Linked DNA regions of Homo sapiens: region 1 is linked to region 2. The links come from fine-mapping of genetic effects on gene expression. A gene starts in region 2. The other region holds a variant in brackets. All regions are shown on one strand. Distances are between the middles of the regions.

Evidence for each region.
Region 1: its variant is fine-mapped to the expression of SPRY2 in whole blood (TOPMed, PIP above 0.99).

The regions. Positions count from the first base shown.
Region 1 is chr13:80,033,946-80,039,319 of GRCh38, reverse strand. No RefSeq gene overlaps it. Among named protein-coding and RNA genes, the nearest start is that of LINC01080, 26 kb to the right of the region's middle. The variant T/G (reference allele first, on the strand shown) is at 2,315.
Region 2 is chr13:80,338,000-80,343,373 of GRCh38, reverse strand. SPRY2 (sprouty RTK signaling antagonist 2) reads left to right here and starts at 2,248. Exons shown (of 2, transcript NM_005842.4): 1 at 2,248-2,752. RefSeq lists enhancers at 1-424, 4,395-4,444 and silencers at 242-431, 1,831-1,880, 2,111-2,300.

The sequences.
Region 1 (5,374 bases), 300 kb after region 2:
ATTTTTGCTAAAGGATTCCTAACAGACTCTGACACCTTATAAATTTAAGTCCAAATTCCTCAACATAGTTCACCAGGTTCTCGTCATGGGACTTACTGTCTTCCTTTCACTTCCTCTTGCAAATCAAAACCCACCCTCTGTTTCAGTCAAGGTCTTCTTCCTGCATTCATGCTGATTTCCCTCTCAGAGCCCAGGCTGTCCCATACCCATTCATCTTTTCATACATCCAGTCTAAGATTCCAAAGAAAGCATACTTTCTGGACCAGGTGCTACTCTGGGCATCATGTCAGCACAAAGGTGAATAAGGCACAGTCTCTGTCTTTGAGGAACTCATAGTTTAGGGTTGAACGTGGACATTTAACCAAATATATAAAGTAACACAATGAAGTAAGGACATTCAAGATTAATTAAGGAAGGGATTTATTTTAGGGAATGACATAACAGAAGAGGCTGTAGTTGATTTGAACCTTGAAGAATAAACAGGAGTCTATCATGAGCATTTGGATTTTGTCTGGTAAGTTTTTTTAAGTCTAGTATAGGCCTTCAAAAATATTTGTTGAAAGAGCTAGCAAAATGCTAAATGAGTTTTGGTGGTGGGGGGTTTGTTTTGATATACTTTTCTTCCCCAGTTCTGACAACAGCCTTGTGAAGTTGGTAAGGCTATTAGAGCTATACAAATAAGATACAGGCCCAAAGGAAGTTGACCCAATAAGTGGAAAATCTGAAACCACATCCATTCTTCTGACTCTAAGGCCTTTGTTCTATCTACTCTGCCTTTCTACCTCCCTGAGTGCTCTTTTGAATTTCCTGACTGCTCCCATCACAAATAAACACAGAGCAGATACTCAACAATTGTTTATTGATTGAGAGAAGCATATAACTTTGATGTCAAAATTTTAATACAGATTTTCCAAGCCCTTTAATAGCCCCTAAACTGGACTTTATATTTCTTTAACTTGGCCCGTTGACATTTCTCAGTCTTTATACTTCCTGAGGCAGGGATAAACTGCTTGCTTATTTGAAAACAAAAGCATGCAGACTATAGGCCATCAATAGTGACCGTGTTGAAGAATCTCACTCCTAAGCTATAGTCAGAATAGTGTTAGAAGGAAAAACAAGAGGCGGAGGCATGTCCACAACCATATAGGAACTTCTCAGAAGCCACTTATCTCTTGGGCAAATAATACCAATTACTCTGCAAGTTTTCTCTATAGCTCTAGGGCATGGTGTGACACTTTTTAGTTGCCCAAGTGCTACTTTCAGAGGTTCAAAACCACAGAATGGATATTCATTTCCACGACTGCATTAATGTATCTCCTTACAGAAGGAACGGAAAGTCTTTTACTCAGTGTCAAGCTTTCCCAGGTCTTTACACTTGAGCACCCGCCAGCTTTTCTACAGGCAAGTCATGGGGTCATAATCGGGGAGCAATGTTCTCCCCAAATGTATGCTTTCCTTTCAGATAACTCTCCCAGAACACCCCACTGACCCTTTGTGCCCTAGTGATGGAAGAACATTTTTAGGTGAGATGGTGTATTTTACATAATGTGTTCCCAGATGCTTTCCATGAATGACTCAGGGCAGGGTAAGCTGCATAAAATTCTGGTGCAGCGGCCGGAAGAAAGCTGCACTCTGTTTAAGCATGAGTGTTGTGTTGTGAGCAGGCTGAGTAATGATGTTCTGTGAGTGACTAGTCTAAGGAAAAGCCAGTGAGTAGGAGTCAGGCTCTCTGACTTCAAATGTCAACATAGATGGAACAAAAATGAGCAGGTTAGTTAAACTCTTTGGGCCTCAGTTTCTCATTTGTGAAGCAAGAAAATTAATGCCTATTTTTGCCCATTTGACTATAGTGGCAGGAAAGGTCATGTGTAAAGTCAAGTTGACTCTTATTTATTGAATGTTTCACAAAAGAAGCATACATGTCATCAGAGAATATGCCTGAAGAAAAAAGAGATTGTTTCAACCAATGTTTAGTGTCTGGTGCCAGGGATATGGTAGTAAACAGATGTGTTCTTGCCCTTAAGGGCTCATGTGGTAATTTAGGAAACAGAGACTAAATAATTAATTGCACATTTAATTATACAATTAAATGTGATAAGTATCACAGAAGAGAATTATGTATAAGAGTATAAGAACAGAAGAAGACAGTCTAGTCTCAAGAAAAGGTTCAGTATGGGGATGACATTTAAGTTGAATTGTGAGAGAGGAAGGGTAAATTGGGAAGTGGCAAAGATGTGGGAGATGCCTTTTTAAAAAGAGGAAGTGTTATACGTAAAGGTTTGTGAGGCAATTGCATGTGGCAGGAACCTAGAAT[T/G]GAAAGCAGGACTTCGGGGCTAGGGGCAGTGAGTGTGGTACTACATGGTGCTGAGGGACCACTGGGAACCAGCTCACTTGGGGCCTTGTATGCCAAGTGAAGGGCTCCAAATGGTTATTATAGGAAGAATGAGAGACTTTACAGAGTTCTAATGAGAATGGCTTGATCAGATCTTTTTTATAATTACACTGAATGCAGGGTGGAAAATGAATTACTGAAGCGTGAGAGTGCATAAAAGGACACCCAAAAGTACATTTTAAAAATGGAGTCTACCCAGTTCCTTCCTGCCGTGTAACAGGAATCCAGGGCCACCATTTTGGTGCACTTGAATAGATCCTGACTTTTTGTCCTTTTATGCATATCCCACCACACTTAATGTTCTTATATTCTATTCTTTCTAAAACTCTGCATAAGATAAAATGTGATTATTTCTTGATTTGATGTTGATAGGTGGTAAGCTAGCCTCCCCAACTAACATAGCTATATTCTAATAGTATTATAACTATCTTTTCTCTTCATTAATATTTACTAAGAAAATAAAATCTAATTGTAGAGATAAGTTAAAGATAGATGGATGAATACATAGATATATAGACAGGTGAAATATAGATAAGTAGATAAATAGATGGATGGATGGATAGAAAGATAGATAATATAAATTAGTACGCTTTTAGCTGCAGGAAACAGAAATCCCACATAATAAGTCTTGAGGCAAAGCAGCTCCAGGTTAGTGAATTTGTTGGCTCATCATCATTTTAAGAACCTAATTATTTTCTTTATTTCTACCTGACTATCCTCAGCATATGGCAATCTCTCTCCTTTTTTAAATTGCATGTATGTTTGTGGGGTACAATGTAATGTTTTCATATAAATCTTGATGGTCACAAGCTGGTTGCAGTTGTCTTGCAATCACATCCCATCAATCCAGGGTTCTGAAAAGGGTTTAGCTCTTCCAGGTGTATTCTTGAGAGAGAAGAATCCTGTCTCAGAAGCTCCTCAGACAATCTTATTCATGTTTCATGCTAGGCAATTCACAGGGGAATGAAATGCCTATTATTTTCAATTTATTAACTCAATTATCTTAGAGTTATTACAACTCTCATCCTGGAACTGAAATTTAAGGCAGGCTTTCTTGAAGCAAAAGGCCTTGGTGACTCCCTATAGAAAATTAGGATTTATTATTAAGGAGAAAGGGGAAATGGCTTTTGGATGGCTGAGACATCAGTGGTGTCTGCTTCACATGTAAAAATTAAAGGTAAACCACAAAAACAGTCAAGCAAATGAATGATACTCAAAGTGTCATGTCAGCTTGCAGCATCAACATTACCTGTGAGGGTGTGAGAAATGTTAATCCTCTGGCCCTACTAAGGACCCACTGAATCAGAATGTTTGAGGGTGGGCCCAGAAATCTGTGTTTTAGGTTCAGCAAGTGACAGTGATGGAGAGAATAGTTTAAGAATCATTGCTCCAGAGTAAAAACATGTTTCAGAAGGTTGAATGACACCAAGCAAGGAGTTGAAAACGTGGATCAGAGCTGGGGGAGAGGGATCAGAGCTAGGAAATTTGACTAATCAATTAAAACACAGGCCTTATATCATGCTAGTAAGGGAGACATTTTGCAAGGAAGCCATTTACCATTCTCTGAATCATATTACCTTCTTTATCTACTGGTAGAACCATTTTGGCTGCCAGAATAAGACAAATGGTGTAAAGATAAGAAAATATTCTACAAAAACTATATGAGGAAATAATTCACTATATGATAAATAATTCACTGGGAATAATGCCCAGGCATGAAAGTATTTGAGTAAGTTTAGAATTTGGAAAATAGATAATAAATTCTGGGGCATAAATATGGAAATGAAAACATGGAGTGGCTGGAAGGCATGCTGTTTTACAGATCCAGAATAACAATTATAGGTTCTTTCTCTGGACATTCCCAGATGCTGATCAAACAACACTTGATACAGCTGCAAACTGCCAGCTAGTAAATCTATATGGAAATTTACAATCTACCTGGGGAATACTTTTGTGAATCTGAATTGTGGGAGTGGAGATGAAAGTTTTCATGTATTATTTTTTATTTGTATGAGTACATGTGGAAGCCACACACCTGCTATAGATGTTGCTCAAGGAAACACATAAGTCTGGCTTATAACAGGCTGAATTGTTTTCGAAATAAAAAGTGTAGAAAAGAGTAGAACAGAGTCCACAAGACCATCCTAAGCTCGTCATCTGGAAAAGGAAATGTGTGGATTTCTGTTGCTTTGGCATATCCCAACATCACGGCCAACTGAATCTAACCATAAAAGGCTTCCTTTAGAAGAGAAGAAAAGGGCAAAACAGATTCACAAGAGGACTGGAAGCAGAGATGTTAACACTTAGGAGGTAAAAGAGAAAAATAAGCTAGACATCGAGCCATAAGAATAGTCATCTCCAAAAAGCACCCTGGCTAGCCTCAACCTTGTTCGAAATGTACTTGTACGCAATTAGTTTGCATACTACTTTGAAGTTTTTGGAGGGCTTCTTCTCAAGCCGTGGTTCTCAAATTGTAATGTTTATCAAAATTACCCAGAGAGTTTGCTAAAACACAGGTTTCAACTCAGTAGGTCTATGGAGGGCCTGAGATTGTGCATGTCTAAGAAGTCAGAAATGCAGTTTGTTTGAGGACCACACATTGAGAACAACTTAGTTAAGATTTTTGAAGTTAATTTTTTTGTATTTTTTAATATTTTCTACTTTTCATTTTTGCTGATACACACACACACACGCACAGTCCTCTGACAAGACCTCTAACTTGCTTCATAGTCCAGGAACATGGGATTACTGGTGACTGAAGACAGCTAGAATAACACTAGGTTTCGTACCTCTCATGCTGATCACCCAAGACACTTACAACATTAGAAGGGCAGAGGAGGAAGTTCTGCAAGTGTAACTTTTATTTTTCATTTACCAAACAGAGGAATGAAAGTCTCTTGGAATTCTAGATAGAATGTAAGTATTATATTAGGAAGGAAATAAGGGGAAAAAGAACAAGCTATGGCCAAAAATTAGTCTGTT
Region 2 (5,374 bases):
AGCGCTGGGAGACCAGCAAGGCACAGATGTCTCCTAAAAAGCCGCCATCGAGTGCAGGAGTTTGAAGAGGCGAAGCGACGGCGTTGCTTTCACCTGCTCTGCTCGAGAGACTTGCTGGCCGCACACCGGCAGCACGTTCCTGCCTAGCCTTGCACACCCAGGCTTTGACCCTCCCAAGCAGACAGGAGGGCAAGCTATCTTCTGTGTCGTTTATATTAATATCTTTGTATTCATTTTAAACCAGCCGGCCTAATGCACACACGTTTTGGAAGGTAACCCAGCCTGTCCGCGTCGTGTCCCGGAGAAGAAAGCAGCCTTAGCCCCGCGCCGGGCGGGCGCCCCCTGGTGGCCAGAGGGGCCGCGAGCGCAGCGGCGCCTGCGTTCACCGTCGGCTCAATGGATTCGGGCGTCCGGCGAGCGGCTGTGGCCAGAGAGGCCCAGCTGTTTTGCGCCCGCAGTCCCGGGACGCTCGGGAGCAGGCCGTTGTAGCCTCGTCCACCCTCACCTTAGGGGTCGGGGGACGTAGGCCAGCGCCCGGAAATAACGCATGCCACTTCCCTTGCCATCTCTGGTTCCAAATCCCTAGAGAAAGAGGAGAGCCCTAGAGAAACATGGAGAAGTCAGGGTGAGACCGCAGCGAGGCAGAGAGCGCGCTGGGGACATTCTAGAGCAGGAGCTCAGAAGAAGGCAGCTAGTTCCAGGGTAGCTGCAAATGGATTGGGTTAAAGCTGGACGAGTGAAGCACCATGTTTTCCTAACACTGCTTTCAAGAACACCCCGCATGGGGCAAGATCGCAGGTGCTATTCGGGAATTTTGACCGTACAAGCAGGTACTTCCCTGTAAAGTAAAAGCATTCTGTAAGTCGCTCGACAGAATGCAATATTAGGCGTGTGTATGCGCAAGTTTTAATTTTCCACTGGTGCTCCCACGTGAAGGCACATTTCTTAGTAAATGAACGGCAGCTAGGACAGTGCATATGTATGCATTTTCTATCTTTATTTTTTTTTTGTAAATGGGAAAGAATAGTGCACCTTCAACATGGACAACAGAATCTTGAGAAATGTTCTAGGTGGCAAGAAAAGTGGGAAATGAAGGATGACTTTTAGTTAAGGGAAGAAGGAAATCTGCAGTGAGCCAACCCTTCCCTCCCCCCCGCCCCCCCATTTCGGAAGCCCATGCTGTCGCCCTGAGTAATCTTGTTCCTGTCTATTAATGAATTAAGTTAAAAGGCTTAGACTGTAGACTTTAGCTACTGCATGAAGCAAAATAGTAAGGAAGCTCTTCAAAAAGCCTCCATTCATAGATAACCCCCCTTAAAAATGAAATTCTAATAAACGGAAAAACTACAAGTCGACACAATCAAAAGCAAATCCCAGCAAGAGCAGAAGGTACTTGAAACTCGAATCTGCATTCCGTTCCTCCCGTACAAGGCTCGGAGGTGGGGGAGGCGGTTTGTGCTGGTGCCTGGTGTATAATCGGGTTAATCCAGTAGACAAAGAATAAACCAATAGCCCTCCCACCTCACTTCCCGCTCCCCTTCCCCTCCCCCTTCTTCTCCCCCCGCCCCAGCCCCCGTCACCCGCTCCGCAAAGGGGAACAGAAAAGGGGAGAGGTAGACTTGAAATGGATTCTGGATAAAGTCTTAAAACCTGCAACTTGTTTTTCATGCTAACACTGCGTGGCCCAGATTAGTCTTAAATGTTCATTCCCCTTTCCTGGTGGCAAGGAGAAAGTTCCCTAAGTCAGCTCGAGCCTCTGGCTCGTCCTCATTGCCTCTGGGCAAACCTTAAGGTCAGTGTTTCCTTGAAACTAGATAAACTGACCCTGCAGTGCCCAGCCCGGCCCCGCGGGCGCCCCGCGTGACGGCGCTCGGGCGGCAGGACCGGCCTGGGGACGCGCGGGGCGGCGCGGTTGCCCTTTTGAATGCCTCCTGCGGCTCGGAGCGCTGGCGGGCGCTGGAGTGTGAGTGAATGTAGCCCCGCGGAGCCAATGAGCTGGGACCGGATGCGATATATCCTCTGGGACAACAACTGCTCTGTTCCGCCTCGGATCCACATGACGCCATTTACTGCTGCCGCGGCCGCCGCAGAGCTCCCTGCCTCCTCCGGAAAGGCGAGGGCGCAGGCCAACGGCGAGCCCCCCCCGGGCGGGCCCCAGACCCTCCTCCTCCTCCTCCTCCTCCTCTTCCTCCTCCTCCGCACCCACCGCCCCCGCCTCGGCCTCGCTGCCTCGCCTCCACAACGCCCAGTCTGCACCGCCGAGAGCTGCGCGCCGCAGCGCTAGCGGAGGAGAGGGGCCGGCGGAGCGCGCAGCGCCCAGGCCCCCGCGCCCGCCCGGCCCGGCCCGGCCCGCGCCCCCGCGCCGCCTCCGCTACGACGCGGCCCCGGCCGCACCACTTGGCGATCTGGCTTTAGGTTCTCCGTAAGGCCGTTTTCTTTTCCCATTCGCTCATCTGCCAGGAAAAGGGACTTGCCGTTGGCGCTTCGGCCTCTTGTTCATTGAGAAAAAAGAGGAAATACTCCGCGTGCGCTTGTAGAAGGGGAGTCGTCTCCAGCTCCGAACCCCGGAGTGTTCATCAGCGGGGAATCTGGCTCCGAATTCTCTTTTTTTCTCCCGCCGATTGCTCGGAAGTTGGTCTAAAGCAGAGGTTGGAAAGAAAGGAAAAAAGTTTGCATCGAGACTGGATTTATTTGCACATCGCAGAAAGAAGAGAATCCAAGGGAGAGGGGTTGGTGCAAAGCCGCGATCACGGTGAGGCACGTTTGGCTCTTCCCCTCCTGGCGCCGCGGCCGGCGCGTTGTGGGCAACATGGAGTAGGTGCAGCCGGACCAGGAGTTGGGTCCGTCTCTCCCCGAGCCTCCCTTTCTCAAATCCCGCAGGGTCTTCGCGAGGATCCGGGGCGCTCCCCGCGGACCTGCCTCGCCCGGGGCTTGGGCTCGGCCTGCCTCTGCGGGGACTTCTGTATGCACCCCGTGCAGTGTCCCCGACAGGCGACCCCGCGCGCCCGCGCTCTAGGGGGTTGGGACGGAGGACAGCTAGCCTGAAGTCTGCTCCCAGCCGTGCACTGGCCGCGAATTCGGCGCTGAGAGCGGGAGAGGGAGAGAAAAACACTTTGTATTTTCCAGGTTGCCTTTGCAGGCGCCCGCATTTCTAACCTGTTCTTCCTCTTGGTGGAAGGCAAAGTCCAGGGAGAGGCTGTCCCTAGGCGGGGCGCTGGTGGGGCTGGGGGACACAGGTTGCCCGCCTCGGGGGCAGGAGACTTCCAGGGTGAGAAAAAGGCAGGGTGCCGGGTGGAGGGAGTGCCCGCCTCTGCTCCGTGTGGACAGTCTAGCCCGGAGCGGGTGGGAGCGTCGCCCTGCCTGGCGCCGGGTCTCTGCGGTTCGGAAGTGCAGCTCTCTCTCTTCCGTTCTTCGTGGTCAGCCTGGGTCACACTTATTTTATTTTTGGAAGCTCGGGCTGACCCAGCGCAGGAAGAAAGTCATCAAGCGGTCGCGATCATTTTCCATTACCTGAAAGTAGGTGGCAAAATAGGCAATTTTTTATTTCCTTTTGTTGTTGTTGTTGCTGTGTTTTAATTTGGATTCTTGTGTGTTTTTTACAAAGCAGTTTCTGTGTCCGTTTGCCCCACCCTAGAGCTGAAGTTCTTTTCCCCTAATCCTCAGTCTGATCACACACTGTTCTTAATGGGGGTTTCAAAGCACTTTCAAAGGGGAGGGGGGACTGGGAAAGAGAAGAGGGGCGGAGGTAGGGAGTCCAGCTTTGAAGAAGGAGGCCAGGGATCGGATCGGCAGAAATCACTTAAAAAATAAAAACAAAAAAGCCCCCTTTTATTTCAAAGATGCTACTTTGACTGCAAGCAAATCTGCACCGAAAGTTTACAGCTCCGGGAGCTGGGTCCTGCGCGCCCGGAGTGAGCAGTGGGACCCTGGAAAATGCCCTTTTTTTAAAAAGCCATTTTTCTTTCACTTTAAGAAATATGATATCTTTTTTTTTTCTCTCGACCCAAAAGGAGATAGGCGTGTGCAGATTACAGGCAATGCCCCCTTCGGTCAGTGCAGCGTGGAGTCGCCGTGTGTGCGTGGGTTGGACTTGTGCGTCCTGGCTGCGTGTCTCAGGCAGGGCTTTCGTGCTCGCAGTGTCGGGGTGGGAAACCTGTGCCGGATGTCCGAGGGGCTTTGCAGAAAGCCTGGCAGTGGGCGGCGTGACCTCTGCCTGGGGGCGGAGTGGCTCCTTGGGGCTGGAAGGCAGTTCTCTTGAGTTGGGGGAGATCTTAGCTGGGGAGAGGGAGGCGGGGGAAGTGTGCTCCTGCATTTCGTGACACGTACCCTTCGGAGGCGCCCGCGGCCCCCGCCTGTCTGAGTCTGGGGATCGTAAGCAGGGGGGCAGCCTGGCCCATGGACAGCGTCAGTCCGCCTGGAGAAACTCCCCTGGGGATCGGCTGTGTCCCACCTGCTGGGGACGGTGTTGGGGCACAGAGAGGCGATAAACTAAGTGAAAGCAAAGAGCAGCGTTGTCTTCTGCCATTCTTTTGGAGGTGAGGAGATCCGGTTTCCAGCACTGCCTTGCTCCGAATTGGGAGACGTTTGTCACCTGCCTTGTTCGCTGTGGCCTCTATTCTAAAGAGCGGAGATCGGATAAAGGTCCACTTTTGCCTGTTTTATACTTTTTATTGTCATATAGGCTTGGGAAAGGGGGTGATCGTTTTGAAATTGAAGAAGGACTGCAGTTTAAGGAATTCCTTGACAGAATGCTAGATACGAAATGTGACATTTGAATTTTTAAAACGCTTTTCTGGTTATTATCACTTCGTTTGTGTTCTCAATTAGCAGGGAGAACAACCTTTTAGCTGCAGAATCTAAGGTGGTGTTCTAGGCTATCAGACTGTAAAATAGTTAATTCTTAAGTTGTTGAGAAGTTGAAAATAAATTCATGTCTTCTTCTTGTTAAGTTTGCTTTAATGTGTTTCTGGCACCTAATAGGATTTGATTTGCTTTTAGTTCTATAACTTTGTGCTACTATACAATTAATAAAAAATGGCATGATTGTTGTAGAATTTGGGTATTTACTTTTTTGCATGCCATATTCATTCTACCTGGTTTGAAAAAGTTACAGAATGCCGTATACGTCACAGTTAAAGTGTTTGATGTAAAAGTAAAAATTAAGAACCAAGAAAGAATCTTCTAGGTTGCATTATTAACGCTTAAGGCAAAAATGACTATGACAAATGGAAACCTATTTCAAATTTTGAAAGGATTTTCAACTTTTGAAAACATTGGTAGCAGTGTTATATTCCAGCAATACTTCCTTGCGATTTTTACGTTGAACCTGAACCTTACAAATTGTATGTTTCTTTGAATAAGGAATTCTTACTTA